Homo sapiens: one gene and its partner. Each later gene encodes a partner of the first gene's protein in a complex. Each region holds a gene or a part of one and is shown on either strand. Other genes may lie near its edges.

Region 1 (10,266 bases):
TTTATTATTATTATACTTTAAGTTTTAGGGTACATGTGCACAATGTGCAGGTTACATATGTATACATGTGCCATGCTGGTGTGCTGCACCCATTAACTCGTCATTTAGCATTAGGTATATCTCCTAATGCTATCCCTCCCCCCTCCCCCCACCCCACAACAGTCCCCAGAGTGTGATGTTCCCCTTCCTGTGTCCATGTGTTCTCATTGTTCAATTCACACCTATGACTGAGAATATGTGGTGTTTGGTTTTTTGTTCTTGTGATAGTTTACTGAGAATGATGATTTCCAATTTCATCCATGTCCCTACAAAGGACATGAACTCATTATTTTTTATGGCCGCATAGTATTCCATGGTGTATATGTGCCACATTTTCTTAATCCAGTCTATCATTGTTGGACATTTGGGTTGGTTCCAAGTCTTTGCTATTGTGAATAGTGCCGCAATAAACATACGTGTGCATGTGTCTTTATAGCAGCATGATTTATAGTCCTTTGGGTATATACCCAGTAATGGGATGGCTGGGTCAAATGGTATTTCTAGTTCTAGATCCCTGAGGAATCGCCACACTGACTTCCACAAGGGTTGAACTAGTTTACAGTCCCACCAACAGTGTAAAAGTGTTCCTATTTCTCCACATCCTCTCCAGCACCTGTTGATTCCTGACTTTTTAATGATTGCCATTCTAACTGGTGTGAGATGGTATCTCATTGTGGTTTTGATTTGCATTTCTCTGATGGCCAGTGATGGTGAGCATTTTTTCACGTGTTTTTTGGCTGCATAAAGGTCTTCTTTTGAGAAGTGTCTGTTCATGTCCTTCGCCCCCTTTTTGATGGGGTTGTTTGCTTTTTTCTTGTGAATTTGTTTGAGTTCATTGTAGATTCTGGATATTAGCCCTTTGTCAGATGAGTAGGTTGTGAAAATTTTCTCCCATTTTGTAGGGTAGGAAGAATCAATATCATGAAAATGGCCATAATGCCCAAGGTAATTTATAGATTCAATGCTATCCCCATCAAGCTACCAATGACTTTCTTCAAAGAATTGGAAAAAACTACTTTAAAGTTCATATGGAACCAAAAAAGAGCCCGCATCGCCAAGGCAATCCTAAGCCAAAAGAAGAAAGCTGGAGGCATCACGCTACCTGACTTCAAACTATACTACAAGGCTACAGTAACCAAAACAGCATGGCATTGGTACCAAAACAGAGATATAGATCAATGGAACAGAACAGAGCCCTCAGAAATAACACTGCATATCTACAACTATCTGATCTTTGACAAACCTGAGAAAAACAAGCAATGGGGAAAGGATTCCCTATTTAATAAATGGTGCTGGGAAAACTGGCTAGCCATATGTAGAAAGCTGAAACTGGATCCCTTCCTTACACCTTATACAAAAATTAATTCCAGATGGATTAAAGACTTAAACGTTAGACCTACAACCATAAAAACCCTAGAAGAAAACCTAGGCAATACCATTCAGGACATAGGCATGGGCAAGGACTTGCTGTCTAAAACACCAAAAGCAATGGCAACAAAAGCCAAAATTGACAAATGGGATCTAATTAAACTAAAGAGCTTCTGCACAGCAAAAGAAACTACCATCAGATTTTCATGCATTTCTATCTATTTTTCACACATGATTATACAAAGAAATTCTACTAGGGAAGAGGGGGAAGGAGATTAACAACATATTCCTTTATATAAATTATGGGTAAGTTTACCTATGATTTTTATATGGAACTTAAACATGCATAACAGTTCTAGTAGTTTCTTCTTGTACCAAAGTACAAAAGCACATCATCTTTGTATCCAGTCCCCTGTGTTCACGTCCCACATTGATGTCTACTGTGTTTGAGTTTCAGTGGCTTGCTTTTTGTCTGCAGGAAGCAAATCTTAGATATGACGAGACGAGGCAGAAAAAGCGAGTAAACAAACAAAAAACGTCCATCCTCCTTATATTACGTGTGTAAATAACCGCTCATTAAATAAAATTAGATAGTGCAAAAGATAAAACAGGTATTATTTTGGAATAATTCAAACCCTGGACTGGGAGAGGTTGACATCTCGTATTACTGTTAACACCTAGACTTAGGACATTCAGATTTTGTCATGTAAAATGGTGTGTGGGATTACATTCACAGATGCAGAAATATGTTCTGTTCCATCACACCCACGAGCCTCTGAACAGTACACTGAAAGCTGGCATGAATAAGAACCATTTTACAAATGAAAAGCATAGCTAATGTGCTGATATGTGATGCATTAATTTAGTCATCATGGTGTTTCTTCAATTTAAAACATTATTTCCTTAATAAGGAGTTATGTCTTTTAAAAAGGGTTATTAGATGGGACTGTGTATGTATGTAGATATCTTGTTTAATCAGATATTCTTTGTAAATATTTCTACATTTCATTGTTTACAACCCAAATACATATTTTAAGAGCTTTAATCTCATAATTTCAAAAATGCTTTATAATCATTGCTAATATGGTTTGCTGGTGGGTTATAAAACATCTTGCCTTAAATTTACCTGCAATCAAAGCTTCTAGATATGGTGGACTAAGAATTTTAGCATTAGAAAAAATATAAATGAAACGTTTATTTCAAATTTGTCTTGTAACAGAAGAACTAAGTCATAACAGATGTTTAACCAGATATTTAGAAGAAGGAAGGATCTTACTATTTAAAGGACCTTCCAAAGTAACTTTTTTTTTTTTCAGAGTGTCACTCTGTCACCCAGCCTGGAGTACAGTAGTGTGATCTCAACTCACTGCAACCTCTGCCTCCTAAGCTAAAGCAATCTTCCCACCTCAGCCTCCTGAGTAGGTGGGACTACAGGTGAGCACCACCACTCTTGGCTACTTAAAAAAAAAAAAGTAGATACAACATCTCACTATATTGCCCAAGTTGGTCTCACACTCCTGAACTCAAACAATCACCCCACCTCAACCTCCCAAAGTGCTGGATTACAGTCACCCAGCCCAAAATGTAACTTAATAATGCAAAAAACTTCTCAGAAATGAGTCTGTTTTACAAATTCCAACTGTATTGTATTTTATTTTCCTGATTAGAATGGTTTCCTAATTCATATTTGAAGTAATAGTTTATAGAAAGCCCTAACAGCACTTAAAGTCCTCCTTGTTTTTTGGTGAGAAAACTTATTGGTTGACCCCTAATAAAATTAGCAAATTTAGAAGATAATTTATTTATTTAAAATGAATTGAACATTTCTTCATCATCCAACATTCATTTAGCTGGCATTATCCTAAAAAGATCAATGATTTAAAAAGAACATTTTAATTTTAATGTTTTAAGAAAGGATATAGTATCCAAATTTAGAGTGCTTCAATATTAGTGAAAATTAATTCCACATTTCTTAAATAAAGATATTTTAAAAATAGAATACTTAACAGATGTTAAATTTATAGCATAGGAGTCTGCCTAGACAGTCAAGTCAAAGTGGAGGATAAGGCAATTGTCCAAAATGCTTAAGCCAAATAAAAACTCAGGGCATAATTAAGACCAAAAATTAAACTCAGATTGAAATTCAGGCCAAAAATTCAATGAAAAAGAAATGCTTTTTGGATAGTGTCATCAAATTGGCTAGCTATATTAATTGGATCTATTGAATTAAGATTCCTTTCTCTCTTCTACTTTGCTCGGGTGTAAGAGACCCCAGTAGTTCCAAGGGTGTGGTTTTACTGGCAGACAGTGGGAGCTACAAGACCTGATTTTATTGCTATTTCTCCCATTAACAGTTGGATGACCCTCAGCAAGAAAGTATACTTAGTGGGGCCTCAGTTTCTTCTTTTTATAAAATGAGACCCTCTAAATTCCTTTCCAGCTCTGAAGTGTTATAAACTCCTGAAATAGTAAGATTACAGCTATGTTTGTGTGTGCATATGTGTTGTGAAATAGAACAATTACAGCTGTATGTGTATGTGTGTGGTGTGCCCAGTGTTCAACAATACGATATTAGCCTAAGGACTTCGCTAATATTTAACACTCACTCTAAGTTTAACTAGGTATTTGATTTAATTACAATAGCTTTTATAATTGTCTTAATAAATTAATCACACTTGATATAGGGAAGAAATTTTTTTCATGTCTTGAATTACACTGATCAGAAGAACACCGGATAGTAACTATTTAATTTTATGAGTGCTCAAAATATGTGGTCCAAGGTATATTTCCATCCAACATGATTCTGTAAGGTGCCTACTGGTGGTAAGAACTGCAATGATGAATACTTTTGATGCAGAACACTTAAGTAGTTAGTATTTATAAGTCTATTATTTGCAATTTTTAATTGTTTTAGTTACGCCATCTGTGACATATTAATTCTTTAAGTTCAGCTGGCATATTTTAGCTTTGTGTCCATTACCTACCTTTTTAGTGCAACAAATGTCTTCATAATACTTAGGCACTATCTTAATAAAGTTCATTTCTTACCTTTCCTTCCAGTATTGAATAAATTGACAATACAGCCAAGCATCTATAAAGTATTTTGCCACTACACCAGAGTATTCTTATCTTTTTCAATATAATAACATAAAATCCTGTAGTTTCTCAGTGACTTGTCTAGCAGCTCTTTTCCAATTGTTTGTCCCATATTTTCCTCTGTTAGCTCTGTTTTTCTGCTTTTCACAATACCATTTCTTTTTACCTATGAAAATTTCATGATGATAATGATAGTATTTATGCTATTGTTTTGTTTTAAGGTCAGCTACCTCTTTTCTATAATTGAAATCAATAGCTTCTCACTTGTTCTCATACTACTTTACCTCTTGAGTACTACAACATTTAAATATCTCCCTCATCTGACCCACCCCGCCACACACACAAGTATCCTAGAGTTCCACTGTTTTTAACTTAAGCCATTTGTTATGATACTACCTTGGGCATACCTATCCCCTTGTGTTAAGTATGCTTTCAACCTTACTGAACTTCGTGTACAGCAAAAATATCCTGGCACAACTGAAGAAACTGCATCTTTAAGAAGCCTATAAATGAATTATTTAAACAATGTAAACAACTGCTCCATTGTTAAAATATTTAAACACATCATGTCAATGTTAATAGACATTTCAATGCTTCATCCCTGACAACTACTATTTCTTTCACGTGTATTGAAGTAAAATAATATTTTGTATAGAGATTTTAAGTAGTTTATTAAGCAATGAACAATAAAATGAGAATGAGTGTACACAGGAAATCCTTTGGGTTATTAATGTATTTAATATTTTTCCCATGTCTTTGAATGACAAATGATAATGTTTCTATTATGAATAATAATTTAATTAGCATATATGATGCCTCCCCAGGGGCTTAATTATCAAGTGCATCATCATAGTTTCAAAATAGACATGACAGCTATTGACTCAAAATTTGCTTTATTGAAAACTTCCATAATGTACTTTTATATGACAGATTCTACTAGATTATTAAATTTCTGTCGTGAATGAATTATTCCAAGATAATAAGCAACAGTATTTTCTATACCTACATTAAATAATAGTCCAAAAATAATAGGGTGTATTATCACCAAATATACAGCTTTCAAAAGCTGGTTCAAAATCTTAATCTTTCTTTGTACACCAGGAAAAACTTCCATAATCTACAGATTTAAGTTATTTACCGAACTTCAATTTATGCCATGAAGAAGAGAGCACAGAATGGGGAAAAATGAACAGGGGCCAAATCTGGGCTTAAATCTTGGCCCATCACTTTCCACGTGGCATGGATTTGCCACTTGCTGTCTCTGAGTTTCAGTTTTCTAATCTTCAAAACAGTGAGAATCATGCTTCCTGTAGGATTATTTTGAAGTAAAGCACATGACTCATGGTAGGAGTTTAGCAAGCAGTAACTTATTATAATTATGATTACAGTTCAGGTACTATGGTAGGGGAGGCAGTATGACAAGTGATGTTCATGGATTTCTGAGCATATTCACTTTTTTTGAGATAGGAAATAGACATATTTGATTATTTAAATGGCATGCTTTTAATTACACCATTATATAATATACATAATTATACTATGCTATCACTAAACAGAACCACACACACACATACCCCACACACACATTACTACAGAAAAACTAATCTATACAAAAAAGTTTATACTTCACTCTTCTAAAATTTCCAAACCACATTTCATGTACCCCTTTGTCTTCTTTGGTATGTCCTGCAGTTATAAAATAGTAATTATTGCCACCTCTATTTTATCTTGTTAAAAGAGATGTATTACCTAAGATTGCATATTACTTCTAGACATACCTAAGTTTTTCTTACTCCTCTTTCACTATCTCAGGGTAATACTCTACAGTTGTTTCTATAAAAATGTAATTATTTCTAATGATTCAAACCTGAGTCACATAAATAACATGGTTAAAAGCCACATAAAGAAAAAATACTATTGATTTGTGGCAACCATCATTCAAACATTGTTGATTTATAGTGCCACTTTTCATTCTGAGTTTTTATTGACAATTCACAAATAAGTTTTTTAAAACATATGTGAAGCCTGTCTATGAATCTCCTTCTTTTGATTTAGGTATTTGATTTAATTACAATAGCTTATATAATTTGCTTTTTTGTTCCATCAGAATATAATATAATTTGCTTCATTATAGGTTTAAATTGCTATCTTTATATTAAAATTTTATTTCTTAATATTGAAACATTGAAAACTCTCTATTGAAGACTGATGTTGACTGCTAAATTAAAGAAATTCAGAGTGAAAACTTCAACATTCTCCAAAGAGCCTAGAGTCATCTCCAATGATATCTTTCCGTGGCAATAAAAATTAGTTAATGGTAACTCGGCTTGTCATAAACTAAAAGTCTGTTATATGTCACAGATTTGAATTAACATTCCCCTAAAGTCATCTTGCAAATTTACATGGCTCCAAAAAAGAATGTGGATGATACTCTGCAAAGTAGTCACTGTTATTAGAGACAACAAAATACACCAAATAATGTCTTTCAGTGGTAGTGTGGCTATTATAACTACTGTGTTCAACAGCATATATGTTTGAAATAATTTTTTCAAAAAACTATGAAATAATTTGTGTGAAGAAAGAAAATGTAATAAGAATCCATAAATAATTCAGATGATAATTCATCAATAATTGGTTACTCTTCGTGTAGTCGGTTAATCTGAGTAAGCAATGAAGTTATAATCTCGTGGAATGTGTGATTCCTTCTTATATTGGGGCCACAGTCATTCAGCAAATAAAATTTTAGTATCTCTAAGTGTAATTTTGATACATCAATTAAAACCTAACATCAATATTTTATCTGTTCTAAAAAGTGAATGTTTTAAAGTTGTGATTAACAAGACCAAGTTTTTGTATCAAATATTTAATCATGTACTATATGCTGAAATAAGAGAGATCTACAAGTACCACTGGAATGAACATCATATAGATAATATAGTTTATTACTTTCATAAGCAATAACATTCATATTAATTTATATCTTCGTGATTTTTTGAAATCCAAAGAAAACAAAAATGCAGATGCACAAAAACACTTTAAGCTTATGTTCTGTATTTTATAAGGGAATTAGAAAAATTAAAAGCTTAAAAAAGAAAGTGGAATAAGAATTTAATTGGGAAAATGTTAATGACAGCCTAAAGCTGCACTAAAATTCTGAATAAAACATGGCTACTGCAACTGGACCAGGTTTCTTTATGAAGTTGTTTCTAATTCTAAGCTGCATATGTGCAGACACAAGTGATGTAGAATTTATGTGTTGGCCATGGTAAGTACACATTTTTTCTTGGATAGTCAGTTTTTTCTTAAAAATGTATAAAGAACTCTCACCTCATAATAAGTCATGAAAATTGACTGTTTTTCTTATCATTACATATTAGTATGATGCAATGCAGCATAACACATAAATAAACCACCTTTTAAAAACTTTAGCCTACTAAGATGGATTATAAAACATTAAGTGAAAATGAAATAAGAAATCTCCAAGTCAGGTAACTCTAAATGTTGGGTCATAAACAAGTTATATCTCCACTAAATTAATAAATATTCTGACCTCAGGACATTTTCCACAGGCCTGAGACACCTCAGAAGTCCAAACTCAATCACTAAACACACCCCCAATATACTTTAGCCATATGACTCTTAAGGAAACATAAAATCATTCCTACATCCCTATTTGCTCATTTTTCCCCCTGTGCAATCAATGATTTCTAAAAAGTAAAGACTTCATTGCTTTACTGTCTTTTGTAAAAACAAACAAACAAAAAACAACAAACAAACAAAAAACACCTCGTGGTAGTTCCCTTAGAGTCCTTCCTGGAAGCCAATTCAAGGAAGCCTGGACGGAGGCGTGACACTTGGACTGGGAAGGTGGTGTAATCTGTTGCGAATCACAGCAGGTTCTGAAGTGCTGGAGAACCCACGTGTGCAGGGGCTGGAGAACTTTTCCACCGTCTCCCAGAGGAAATGCCTCATTTTAAAATAGGGGGCTGGCTGGAGCAAGGGGTGGGGGTGAAGGGTGGGCGGTAAAAAAAGGCAGAGGCGAAGCTTTCAAACCGTTCACGCATGTCTACCTGTGCTTATTTTCCCTCTATTTCGCCTCCGATCAACTTTATTATTATTATTATTATTATTTTCCTTCTATAGGAGGACTTAAGCAACCAGGATGCTGAACATCTCATAGGCTCAGGCTGGAACAAAGAAAATCGAGTTCCTAATACTGTATCTCACCCGTTGGAGGGATCACGTGTCCTGCTTTCGCTGGAATGCACTCTTCTCGCCCACGCTATAAAAATCTCTATTGTGCTTAGAAATTTCGCCTAGGTTAGAATATGCTCACAAAAAATTGCTTTTCATCCACCAGGAGAGCCACATTTCGACATATACAGATACAAATCTATTTACCTGCTGACCCAGTTACCACTGCAGGTAAATTCGATGTGTTGAAAGAGTATTGGGAAAGTAATTGAAAAGAGCAGGGGGAGGACCCCTGTGTCTTACCGATCCCCACCCCCATCGCTTTTTTTTTTTTTTTTTTTTTTGTAATTCCTTTTGAAGGAGAACTTCGAAAGGAACGTGGGAGTCGCAGATGGTTCCTTTCTGAAGCCGATTCCTGGGAGTTGTGAAAGTGACCCCGTCTCTTCTCTGCCTCGAGCTGTGCCCTCTCGCCCAACCCGCTCGCTTTATGACTTGATGGGGAAGAGACAGCCAGAGAAGAGCCGGAGTAGAGGGCGGAGGCGGGTCCTTTATTCAGCCCTGATGGCCGAGAAGTAGTGTAAGGAAGCAATCTTTCAGCCATCTCCGTTATTATGAAGTCACACTATTTTAAAAGGCAATCTATACAGTCCCCCAACCCCCGCCCCCATTCTTGACTCTGCAAACAGTAAGATTAGAGACCACTGGTAGCCAATCTAATAGTCCACGAGCCAGGGTGCCATGATTACCTTAATGCTAATGTGCTTCCCTCCCTCTTTCCACGTCGAATCCGAAACACGTCCTGCATCCTTAATAACTCGGAGAGGAGGACGCAAGATCCTCAAGGGGACCCAGCGCTGGATTGGGAATAGGCAGGTTCACCAGCTTCTCGTGCCACACAAAGGAGATGTGTGGGCAGGAGTTGTCTAGCTGACAGGGAGGGAGGCAAGGTTCTCCCTGACTCCCAGGGAACACGCTCCCCCACTTCTTTCCGTCCTCCAGTCTTTCATGTTCCTTCGTCCCCTCCATCCCCCCAAACCCCACCCTTTCCCTTCAATCCCAATCACATAAAAATCTTCTAATTGTATTTTTTCAAACAGACATCGAGACATTGATACAACACCTTCCAAGATAAAGAGACAAGTGCGTCCTGCCACAAGTGTGTGTGAGTGTGTGTGTGTGTGTGTCACGATCAAACACGCGCTTCATCCCTCAGACACCTCTGGGAAAAAAGCTGACTGGAGATACCCAAGATAATAACGAGGAGCTAAACCTAATTTCAGCGGAACCAATGGTCCCAGCACCAGCGCCCAACATTTACCTTTCCTTTTCGCAGTATGTAACCCTTTAAGGTCTCTTGCCAGCTCAAGCTACTCGGTGCTCCCATGCACCCGCCCAGTTAGCACCCCATTTCCAAATGCTCTGCAACCTACCACATCTTCGCCGCCTCCCTCGGCCACCGCACAAGCAGCTCCCCGCGAGCGCCGAAGCCTCCCGCCCTGCCACCCCCGCCCCCGGCCGGCCTCTGGGGTCCCACACCTCGCGCGCCTACGGTCGCCGCGGCCGGGCCCC
Region 2 (10,266 bases), on another chromosome or scaffold:
CAGCCGGGGCTGGTAGAGCAGAGGCCCTGTCCCACCCAGCCTCTGAGCCAGTGGGCAGCACCTATCTGTGTCCCCAGGGTTCAGGCATGGGACCCTACGGCCTTCCACAGGGCTCCCTGGGGCCCCCTCTCTCCTTTCCTGTCACTCCCCTCCGCCATCTCTCCTCCCCAAAGGGCTCCCTGTGGTTGAAGGCCTTAGGGAAGTTTCCACAGAGCTGCCCTAATAGTCTAGGTGCTTGAGATTATTATCCTGATTTTATAGATGAGGAAAAAACTGGCAGAAAACTTGCAGAAGGTCAAGAAAGTTTAAAAGGGATAGACCAGGACTTAACTCAGATGATCCAGCCTGCTTTGTGATTTTGGTATAACTGGGTCTCTTTAAGCTACCTGGGAGTACTTTTTAGTGGGCAATATTGAGCCATGGTTAAGAACCAGAGTTCTGGGTTCAAATCCCGACTCTGCTACTTATGAGGTATGTGACTTTGGCTAAGTCACTTCACCTCTCTGTGCCTTCGTTCCTCATCTGTAAAATGGGAATAATAATTGTGTGTCCCTCAGGAGTGGTGTCAGAATTAAATGTGACCAGGCATATGAAGTGCTCAGCCCAATGCTTAGCATACACACTCGGTAACTTGTAAGTGTTCTTAAAAGTGCTTGTTAGAATACCTCAGGTGTCCATTATTTGAACTGACCGGCTCAACAACCCTGGGAGGCACTTAAGATAGGAATCCCTAATCCTTCATTTGACAGATGAGGAAACAAGGACTAGAAGATAAAGAGACGTACCCAAGGGGCAAAGTCAGTTAGGACAGGCCTCCCGACATCCCATGACCAACTCCAACAAGGGGGTGCAGAGTGGGCTTAGCTCTCAGCCTGGGGCTGACATGGCAGGTGCATTTCATCTTGAAGCCACCAGCAATGGATCACTAGTGGCTCCTGGAAGAGTGGTGCTGAGAAGCTTATGATCCTGAGTCAGGACCCAGTAGGAAGGAGTTCTGTGGCTGATTACCACTGGCTCTGAAGTGGGAAGTGGTGACAGGTGTGCTAGGTAGTTGTCGATCTGATCTAGAGGCTTTGCTGGCTCATCAGGCTTATGTCTTGGGCCGACTGGGGTTGCACAATACAAGCCCAAGTGCACCTGAGGGGCAGGGGCTGTTTTCCTCAGCTCCAGAGCAATCCTCATCCCCTCTTCCAGCAGGATCTTGCTCCAGGTTACTTACGAGACAACCTCTGTGTATGTGTCTGCCTGTCTGTGTGTCTGGGAGCAGGGTTTGCAGGGACTCCTGGATATCTCTCCCCAGAAGTGCTGCGGAAGGACCCGTACGGGAAGCCTGTGGACCTGTGGGCTTGTGGTGAGTTCATCCTAAGGCCCTTTTGTGCCCCTGGCTGCACCCCGGCCTCTGGGGCCCCCTCTCTCCTTTCCCATCACTCCCCTCCCCCCATGTCTCCTCCCCACAGGGGGTTGAAGGTTCTCTGGTCCTCTTTCCAGGGGTCATCCTGTACATCCTGCTGGTTGGGTACCCCCCGTTCTGGGATGAGGACCAGCACCGCCTGTACCAGCAGATCAAAGCCGGCGCCTATGATGTGAGTGTCGCTCCTCTCTTCAGCTCCCATCATCCTCTGGTGCCCTTCCAGTGAAAGCCAGCGCCAAGCCACTCTCTAGTTCTGGCACAGGGGTGAACCCCAGGGGAGCATGAAGACTGACCAGGGCCAGGTGGTTACCATGCTGTGCCTAATGATTGGAGATTTATCTTGCCCCAGAAGGCAAGAAGCAGCACCAAAATGGAGTGAGGAGTAGGGGAGAGGCGCCTCCCAAGCCAGGGTTTCTCTGTTTCTCTCTCATATATACAAATAATAATAGCTAACAATTCTATAGCACTCTCTGAATGTTTTACACATATTATTACATTTAATCCTCACACCAATCTATGATATAGGTGCTGTTATTATTCCCATTTTACATATAGAGAAGCTGACATACAGAGAGGTCAAGTAACTGCCTAGATCACACAGCTAAGAAATGGTAGAGGTGGGATTTGAACCAGGCAGTCTGGCTCTACCATCCATGCTTCTAACTACCAAGCTATATTGCTTTTATGCAGATAGCTATTAAGCTCTGTGCCGTATGTTTTATATTGTATTTAATTCTCACAACATCTCTAGAGATAGCTCAAGAGGTCATGTGACTTACCCAGGTTACACAGCCCAGGAGGCAGAGCCAGGACTTGAATCCAGGCCTTTTGATTCTGAAGTCTGGGCTAAAGCCACTGACCGGCTGCTCTGCAAATAAGGCACAGTCTCAGAAAGATGGTTGGAGGGAGGCCTCCTTTCCCTCTGCCGTGTTCTGATTTGTATGGGGCTAGGGCCCTCCCCTGCAGTGAGGAGCCCCAACTCCTCCTGGTGTGGATGTCCGAGTGGATGGGCAGTAGGACCCCTGCCTGCTCCCCTGCCAGTCAGGGGCTGGGGGATCGCAGGGGTGGCCTGGGGCAGGCTGGGCAAACCTGGCCTCTCTGCCCCTTCCAGTTCCCATCGCCGGAATGGGACACTGTCACCCCGGAAGCCAAGGATCTGATCAATAAGATGCTGACCATTAACCCATCCAAACGCATCACAGCTGCCGAAGCCCTTAAGCACCCCTGGATCTCGGTGAGCCTTCCTCAGCAGGACTTCTCCCAGGAGCCCCTCCAGACCTCATGATCCAGGCCCCCACAGAGTTCTGGCCCTTCCCCTGGCCCATGGGGCCAAGAGGGCTTAATCCAAGAGACTGCCCCTGCTGTGGTTCTCAGGGGTAATGTGGAAACGAGGAGTGAGTGTTCTGGGTTGGCATACAACTGATGGTGCTACTGGCATTGAATGTCTGGTGCCAGGATGCTAAACACCCTGAAGCATCTCCTAGAGCAATGAATCGTTCTTCCCAAGATGTCAACCACACCTCCATTAAGATGCCCTGCTGAAGGGTACCCTTGGGTGGGCCTGTCTTCCAGCCTGCCTTCCACTCACAGCCCTCTCCCCTACTTCCTCCAGCACCGCTCCACCGTGGCATCCTGCATGCACAGACAGGAGACCGTGGACTGCCTGAAGAAGTTCAATGCCAGGAGGAAACTGAAGGTAACAGGTCCTCACCCTCCACAGTCCTGGCCATGGGACTAGCTCTGCCTGGGTCTCCACAGAGGCCAGGAGACTCGCTCACTAATTCTTTCCTTCATTGATTCAATAAGCATTTATTGAACACCTACTGCATACTGGACAGCAGGTTGGGCTTGGGGAGTGAGCGGTGAATGACTGAGCCCTTGCTCTAGTGGAGAGGACAGACAAGTTCCTGGGGCGTTATGGGGCAGTGGTGAGTGCCATGCCTGGGAAAGCCTCAAGATGGTGGCAGAATGCAGCAGGACAATGGTATTCTGGGTCTGGAGCCAGGGGCGTTTAAGCTGAGACCTTGGAGGATAAGCAGGTATTAGCCAAGTTAGAGTCAGAATGGGAAAGTGTGGCCGGGCGCAGTGACTCATGCCTGTAATCCCAACACTTTGGGAGGCTGAGGTGGGCAGATCACCTGAGGTCAGAAGTTCAAGACCAGCCTGGCCAATGAGGTGAAACCCTGTCTCTACCAAAAATACAAAAATTAGCCAGGCATGGTGGCACATACCTGTAATCCCAGCTACTCAGGAGGCTGAGGCAGGAAAATTGCTTGAACCTGGGAGGCGGAGGTTGCAGTGAGTGAGATCGTGCCATTGCACTCCAGCCTGAGTAACAGAGAGAGACTCTGTCTCAAAAAAAAAAAAACAAAAAAAAGAATGGGAACGTGTTCCAGACAGAGGAAGCAGCCTGTGCAGAAGTTTGGAAGTGCGCCTGACCCCTTAGGGGCACCACAAGTGGTTCAGAGTGGCTGGGGAGAGCTTTTGGGGGTGAGACATGACTGAACGTGAGACCCTGGTCAGGGAGGCGCCCCAGCTGCCCAGTACTGTGGAGGAATGGCTGAGGCACTCAGACAGTGATTGTGGCCCTGAGGAAGCTCAGTGGCACCCAGGTGGTCCCAGAGCTTCACACTCTTGCAGGTTCTGTGTGCTCTCAGGGTGGTGACAGCTCCTGGCCTGGCCTTTGCCAGGCACTGAGGGGCCCCTGGCCAGTGGAACAGAGGAGCCGTCAGCACGCTGGGGATGATGAGGGAAGAGGCGGAGGCCCCAGCTCTTGTGGAACCTCCTTATCTGCTGCTCCCAGGCCTGGAGTGGAGGCTTAGGATGGGGACACAGACCAAGGGGTGGTGGCCAGCATGATGCCAGGAGAACTGAGTCCCATCCCCATCCTGCAGTGGAAGCTGTGTCACAGAGGAAGTCTCAAAATATCAGAATCAGGGATTCTTAACATCATAAGCAGTGGGATTCAGACAGTGTCAAGTCAGGTCTGAATCAGATGGCTCTGGAACAAAAGGGGCCATTAGCCCCCAGCCTGCTTGTTGATGGAGGAGGCTTTCTCTACATTGAGAATCCTCCTGGGATTCAAAAGATTATAAATCATGGTGCTATAAAGACACATGCACACATATATTTATTGCGGCACTACTCACAATAGCAAAGACTTGGAACCAACCCAAATGTCCAACAATGATCGACTGGATTAAGAAAATGTGGCACATATACACCGTGGAATACTATGCAGCCATAAAAAATGATGAGTTCCTGTCCTTTGTAGGGACATGGATGAAGCTGGAAACCATCATTCTCAGCAAACTATCGCAAGGACAAAAAAACAAACAGCGCATGTTCTCACTCATGGATGGGAATTGAACAATGAGAACACTTGGACACAGGAAGGGGAACATCACACACCGGGGCCTGTTGTGGGGTGGGGGGAGGGGGGAGGGATAGCATTAGGAGATATACCTAATGTAAATGACGAGTTAATGGGTGCAGCACACCAACGTGGCACATGTATACATATGTAACAAACCTGCACGTTGTGCACATGTACCCTAGAACTTAAAGTATTATATAATATATATATATATATAAAATAAAAAACTTGGAAATAAAAAAAAAAAAGAGAAAATCCTCCTGGGATTCTCTGAGCCCAGGGGCCATGGAGGGATGAGCTAGTCCTGGAGCAAGATGCTCTCAGCACGGGGCAGAGGGCTAAGAGGTGGAGGGGTTGGGGGACACGAGGTCTGCTGTTGTTGCCCAAGCAAGAAAAGTCCATCATCTTCAGGAGCCTCTGCTGGTAGGTGTCCCTCAAGCTCTTCAGCTTGGGCGGGCCAAGGGGCCCATTAATATCTGCCCCTAGGACGGCCTTGTCCCAGGAGCTGTACTGGCTAAAGCCTAGCTCACCCCGACTTCTCCAGGGGGCGAGGGATGGGCTCTGGGCTGGGGTTGGGGTTGGGACAAATGGAGGGGCAGGGCAGAGGCTTTGGCTTCTTCTCTGAATGCAGCACCTGCCTCTCCTTCCCCGTGGCCCTCCCGTCTCTCTGTCCCTCCTGGGTCCCTTCACTCCGGCCTCCTCTCCCACTGCCCTCTTCTTATGTCTTGCAGGGAGCCATTCTCACCACGATGCTGGCCACCAGGAACTTCTCCGGTAGGTGGCAGGACCTCAGGGTCCCCAGTAAGCCCTGCACCAGTTCGTTGGGGGCACCGTCCTGTCAGATATTGGAGTGCCCCCAGGCCACTGGGCCTGGGGAGAGGGAGTTGTAGAGGACTCTGTGACTAAGGGCTTAGCTCACCTGCCACGGCCTGTACCCAGAAGTGAAGAGAGGTCAAAAGTCAGCAAGCCCAGGGCCCACCAGGACTGGTTACAGATTTAGTCTGGCTGCCCACTCCTACAGCAGTGCTGGGGTTCTCAGGCTGGGCCGCCTAGAGGGGAAGGCTTCTGATTGCAGGGGATTGAGTTCTAGATGGGGTGGAGCCAGGTCCAGGGAGTAACAATATTGCCCACCATGATTGGAGCCCTGTGCTAAGCAGTCCCGTGCTTCCACTCAGGTGGCCTACATGACAAGGCAGCAGAGGGGATGATGGGGGTGCTGCCATCCCTATTTCTGGGATGAGGAAGCAGAAGCTCAGGAAGGTGAGCTCTGACTTGTCCCAGGTCACATGGCTAGAGAGGCAGAGCCTGCATTCAGCACAGGTTTGACCAAACCCAGGGCAAGTGCCTTTAACTGGATTGGGTCACCAGTGAGTCCAGGGCAGGAGCGTCCCAGGCCCTTGGCCAAACTGGGCTGGTTAAGGCAGGGAGTGCCCAATCACCTGAGGCATGTGGCTTTGCAGAGAGAAGGGGAAGGGATTATTGTCAGGGTTTAGCAAGAAGCTCCTCTTGGCACATCAGAGAGGGCTGGGGCCAGTGCCCTCCAGAGGCTTCCTTCTGGGGAGCGCAGGCCGCTGGCAGGCAGTAGAGGAGATATAGATAGCAGATAGAGCAAAGCTCACCCGAGGGGCCCTCTGACTGGGGCTGGGGCCAGCCGAGAAAGCTGCTGCAGATTTGTGGCCAGCACCACAGCAAGAGGGCAGCTCTGAGAAGGGGGCAGCTGGCTGCATTGAGTGGGTCCACCTGCCCATGTAACCAGTTGGGAGGAGTGAGACCCAGAGGTGGGCAGATACTAGAACTTCTGACTGGGCTTTTCCTACCTCGTTAAACTGCCTTCCCACCCTCTCCCTGGACAAGGATCCTGCCATTCCGTAAACTGAAAGATGAGCTACCCAGATAGTCAGAGTCTTTTTTTAACAACTGAAGCACCCTAAAGAACTCTAGTCCTGAGCTCACAAAATGGCGGCCTGTGAGCTGGATTGAATCTCTTGATATGCTTTGTGGAGGTAGGGGTGTTTTAAAAATTTTTTTGAATGAGTTTCTAACACTTAAAAATTAGGAAATTTCATAGAAAACCCCAGATTGCTGTCGTCTCTTGAAAATTAGACGCTGTGGCCTCACTGGACCCACGATCCTGTGACAGTAGGCTGGAGCTGAGAGGGGCGTCTACCTTGAGGCTCGAGGAGAAAGCACTCCCCCTGCCCCACTGCACATCCTAGTCCAACCCTCCAAAGCCTGTGGTGAATGGACAGCCATTCCTGTCAGCTTCGGGATCCAGAGGTGGCCCCTGCCTTGGTTTGCAAGTAGGGAACTTGGAATGAGAGCCTCGAAGGGGTCATAGGTGGAAATGTGGGGGTGACTGGGAAGGTGACCTGCCATGAGCCCCATGCCTCAGAGCCCCTGGGGCATCAGTGGCTCATATGACCCTCCTCCCAACTCCCCCTCTCAAGGCCACCAGGAGAAGTCTTATCATGGCTACCATTTCCTGAGCATGTGCGGCTTATGGGTCAGGTGCTTTGCTAAGTACTTCACAGATACCTTGTTTCATTTAAGGTATTTGCTTAAGTCTGAAGCAGCCGGATGCCTGTGGGCAGGGCTGGACATTCAGGCCATTTCCTGGCTGATGCCCACTTCCAGGGCTCTGGCCAGGAGGTGAGGAGGGAGGTAAGGGGAAATGACAGCAGGGGAAGCCCCCAAAGAGCTGTTGCTCTGGTTGTCCCTGCCACCCGGGCCATAGCCAGTGCCAATATGGGGCTCTGGAGTCTGAGGTTGGGGAGGCCTATATGGCCTGAGGAGAGAGGCAGGGGATGGGTGCTCTGGCAGGGTGGGCCCCAGTGGGGGCATCTGCTTCTTGTCACTGGCAAGACGCAGCCTGCAGCTGTCCGGAGTGAGTAGGCAGGGCTGACACATGACCTCCGCAGCAGCATGGGGCTAAAATTAGAGAGGGCCAGGGTGGGGAGGGCGTGTCCAGCCTGGGGCCAGGCAGCCAGACCTCGGGTTGGCCACCGCCAGCACGGTGGTGACAGGGATTCAGAGGGAATCCCCGGGCTGAAACAGCAGCCCACAGTCCTGGGACATGTTGGACACCTCCCTCAACCCATGAAGCCAGAGGGTTACGCTTGAGATTGCTGAGAAGGCGGGGAACCCAGGCAGTCCCTGGGCCTCCAAGGAGGGAGGAGGAGGAGGAGGAGGAGGAGGAGGAGGAGGAGGCCTCCCCCAGGATCGCTGGGCCAGCTCTGCTCCCTGCAGTCTGCCCTCCGGCTGCGTGTGGATGCTGCTCGTCCTCGCCCTGTGGGCCCTGGTGCCCTGCCTGGCGTTGTTAACCCTCTACTTTTTCTCCTCCACAGGAGGGAAGAGTGGGGGAAACAAGAAGAGCGATGGTGTGAAGGTAAGCCCCTCCAGGAGCCTGGCAGGGCTTGGCTCTGGCAGCGTTTCTGCCAACAGAGACCGGCTTTCAGGCCTGGAGCAAGACCCGGGCCTTGCTGATGGTGTCCTGGGCAGACGTGGGCCACATTTGTGGCCAGGCTGTCTCCAGACCCACGACCTAGGCTTTGGTGCCCACCGTTGCGCCGTGACTGTTGGGGGGCAGATGGGAGAGGGGGGACTGGAGGAGGGTGGAAGTGACAGGTGTGCTGGGGTGGGGGCAGGCGCAAGGAAAGGGGCAGGTCAGAAGGAGATTTCTGTGGTTCTCCGAGGCTGGAGAGCTGGTGTGCAAGAGAGGGTGCAAGGAGAGGACAGAAATGGTCATGAGGGGTGACCTCCGTCCTGCCTATGTGTGGGCTGGATCGGGCCCCTGCCCCGCTGTACACCTTAGTTCCACCCAGAAAGCTCGTGGAGGATGGACAGCCATTCCTCTTGGCTTTGGGTTCCAAGGTGCCCCCTCCCGGCAAGGCTTGCTGGTGCTGGTTCAGTTCCAAAATCCCCTCCCGGCTCCAAGGGCCTGCCCTGTCCCACCCCTAGAGCCCGAGTTACCCTGTGGTCCCTCCACATCCTGCGGTCCTCCTTCCCGTCTCTTCTCTCTTCTCCCTCTGCTCTCTGGGGCCTGGTCCCCTGCTCTCTGCAGTTCCCTCCTCCTCTGCCACTCGATCTTATCCTCTCTTGAGACCCTGCCTTTTTCTGGGCTCAGAGCCCTGCCTGGCGAGGGCCCCAGGGCTGGGATGTGCCCAGGACATTGGAAGGTGTGGGATGCTGTATGAATACAGCCAGATGTGCTGGTGGCTTGATGGCTTTGTCTAAGGAGGCATTTATGGTCTCTGGCCGCTGGTTTTGGTCTGTCAAGGTTGCATGCGAGGGAGTCTGGGCTAGATGTCCAAGGCCAGGATTGGGTCTCCCCTCTGTACTTAGCCTTCTCCTCCCAGCTTGAATTTTCCCCTAAGTACAACGAGTGGGGTGTGGATTTGATGATCATTTCCAAGATTGCAGCTTTAAAAACAAACAAAAAAAGCAATAAAATCCTATCTAATCATTCTCCCTTCTCATCTTGGGTGCTAGAGGAATACATAATTATTTGGTTATTAGTCCAAGACAGTGGTTTTCAAATTGAACTCTTTAGATCCCAAAGGTACTGGACTGGGGAGGCACCTCTGGCAGCGGATGGGGTGCTGTGGGATGTGGAAGGGGGATGCCAGGTTAAATGGTTCTGGGCTTCTCATACCCACTTCAACCAGAGCATGATCATGGTGAAGAGAGCCCTTGGGCTTGCCTGCAGCTGGACCTCGGCTGGGTATTTATATTCCCTGAGCCTGCGCTTCTTCATTCATGCAATGAGGTTAAAAGAGATCTCCACCTCCTAAGCCTATTGGTGAGGATTAACTAATACAATGCGCCCTGAGAGCTTAGCAAGGTGCTGGTATGTAATACACACTCATGAGATGCTAGGCACTATTATCTTTCCTCTATTTTATGTATTAGACTTTTGGGTAAAATTTCTCTTGAAAACCAAGTTTTCTCAAGAATATTTGAAAACCACAGATCTAAAGCCAACTTAATTTATAAAGTTAACAGGCACTCATTCCAAATCCTGTAATGGAATCGGGCATTGAATTTTGGCTTGCCTGCTGTTTTGGGTTAACCCTGAGCCAACCCGCCATCCCTCTATGTGTAGGGGTAATAGAGGGATGTGCAATGTGGGAGCTGCCAGCTTTGGAGTAGCTGGGGCCCTCTCTGACCCCTGTGTGGAGACGCTGAGCTAGGGGTGCTGGGCGCCCTGGGGAAAGCAGACTTCCTGGTTCCGATTTGGGGGATGTGGGGATAGAGACCAGAGACACCGGTGGGTTGTGGCCCAGGTAACTAGAGGAGAAGGAAGTAGAGAGAGAAGCTGCCCTGGTCTGCTTGGCTCTTGGATGTAGCCCTGGTAGAGGCTGGGCAAGGGGTCAGGAGAGGCCTCCATCAGGCTGGTTCTTGGGAAGAAATGCTTATTAGCTCTTTTAGGGCAAGGCCAGGAGGCAGAAGCTGCCAGATGGCAAGGACAGCTCACAGCATG

The links.
Region 2: the proteins of LRRC7 (region 1) and CAMK2A are in contact, whole or in part, in a crystal structure (PDB 6X5G), measured with the Homo sapiens proteins. Residues at the interface, in NP_001357714.1 of Homo sapiens: His843, Gly844, Arg845, Arg846, Pro847, Leu848, Ile849, Arg850, Gln851, Asp852, Arg853, Ile854, Val855; in NP_001350919.1 of Homo sapiens: Glu96, Phe98, Glu99, Ile101, Val102, Lys137, Glu139, Leu159, Phe173, Ala174, Gly175, Thr176, Pro177, Gly178, Tyr179, Leu180, Ile205, Gly209, Tyr210, Pro211, Pro212, Phe213, Trp214, Tyr222, Gln224, Pro233, Glu236.

What each region holds. Positions count from the first base shown.
Region 1 is NC_000001.11:69,568,682-69,578,947, reverse strand, and holds part of LRRC7 (leucine-rich repeat-containing protein 7), read right to left. Parts: intron 10,196-10,266; exon of another isoform or gene 10,133-10,195; coding exon of another isoform or gene 10,128-10,132; intron 9,608-10,127; exon of another isoform or gene 9,503-9,607; coding exon of another isoform or gene 9,444-9,502; intron 1-9,443.
Region 2 is NC_000005.10:150,243,067-150,253,332, reverse strand, and holds part of CAMK2A (calcium/calmodulin-dependent protein kinase type II subunit alpha), read left to right. Parts: intron 1-1,267; coding exon 1,268-1,351; intron 1,352-1,488; coding exon 1,489-1,583; intron 1,584-2,522; coding exon 2,523-2,645; intron 2,646-3,023; coding exon 3,024-3,107; intron 3,108-5,518; coding exon 5,519-5,561; intron 5,562-8,131; coding exon 8,132-8,172; intron 8,173-10,266. UniProt on the Homo sapiens protein: Calcium/calmodulin-dependent protein kinase that functions autonomously after Ca(2+)/calmodulin-binding and autophosphorylation, and is involved in various processes, such as synaptic plasticity, neurotransmitter release and long-term potentiation.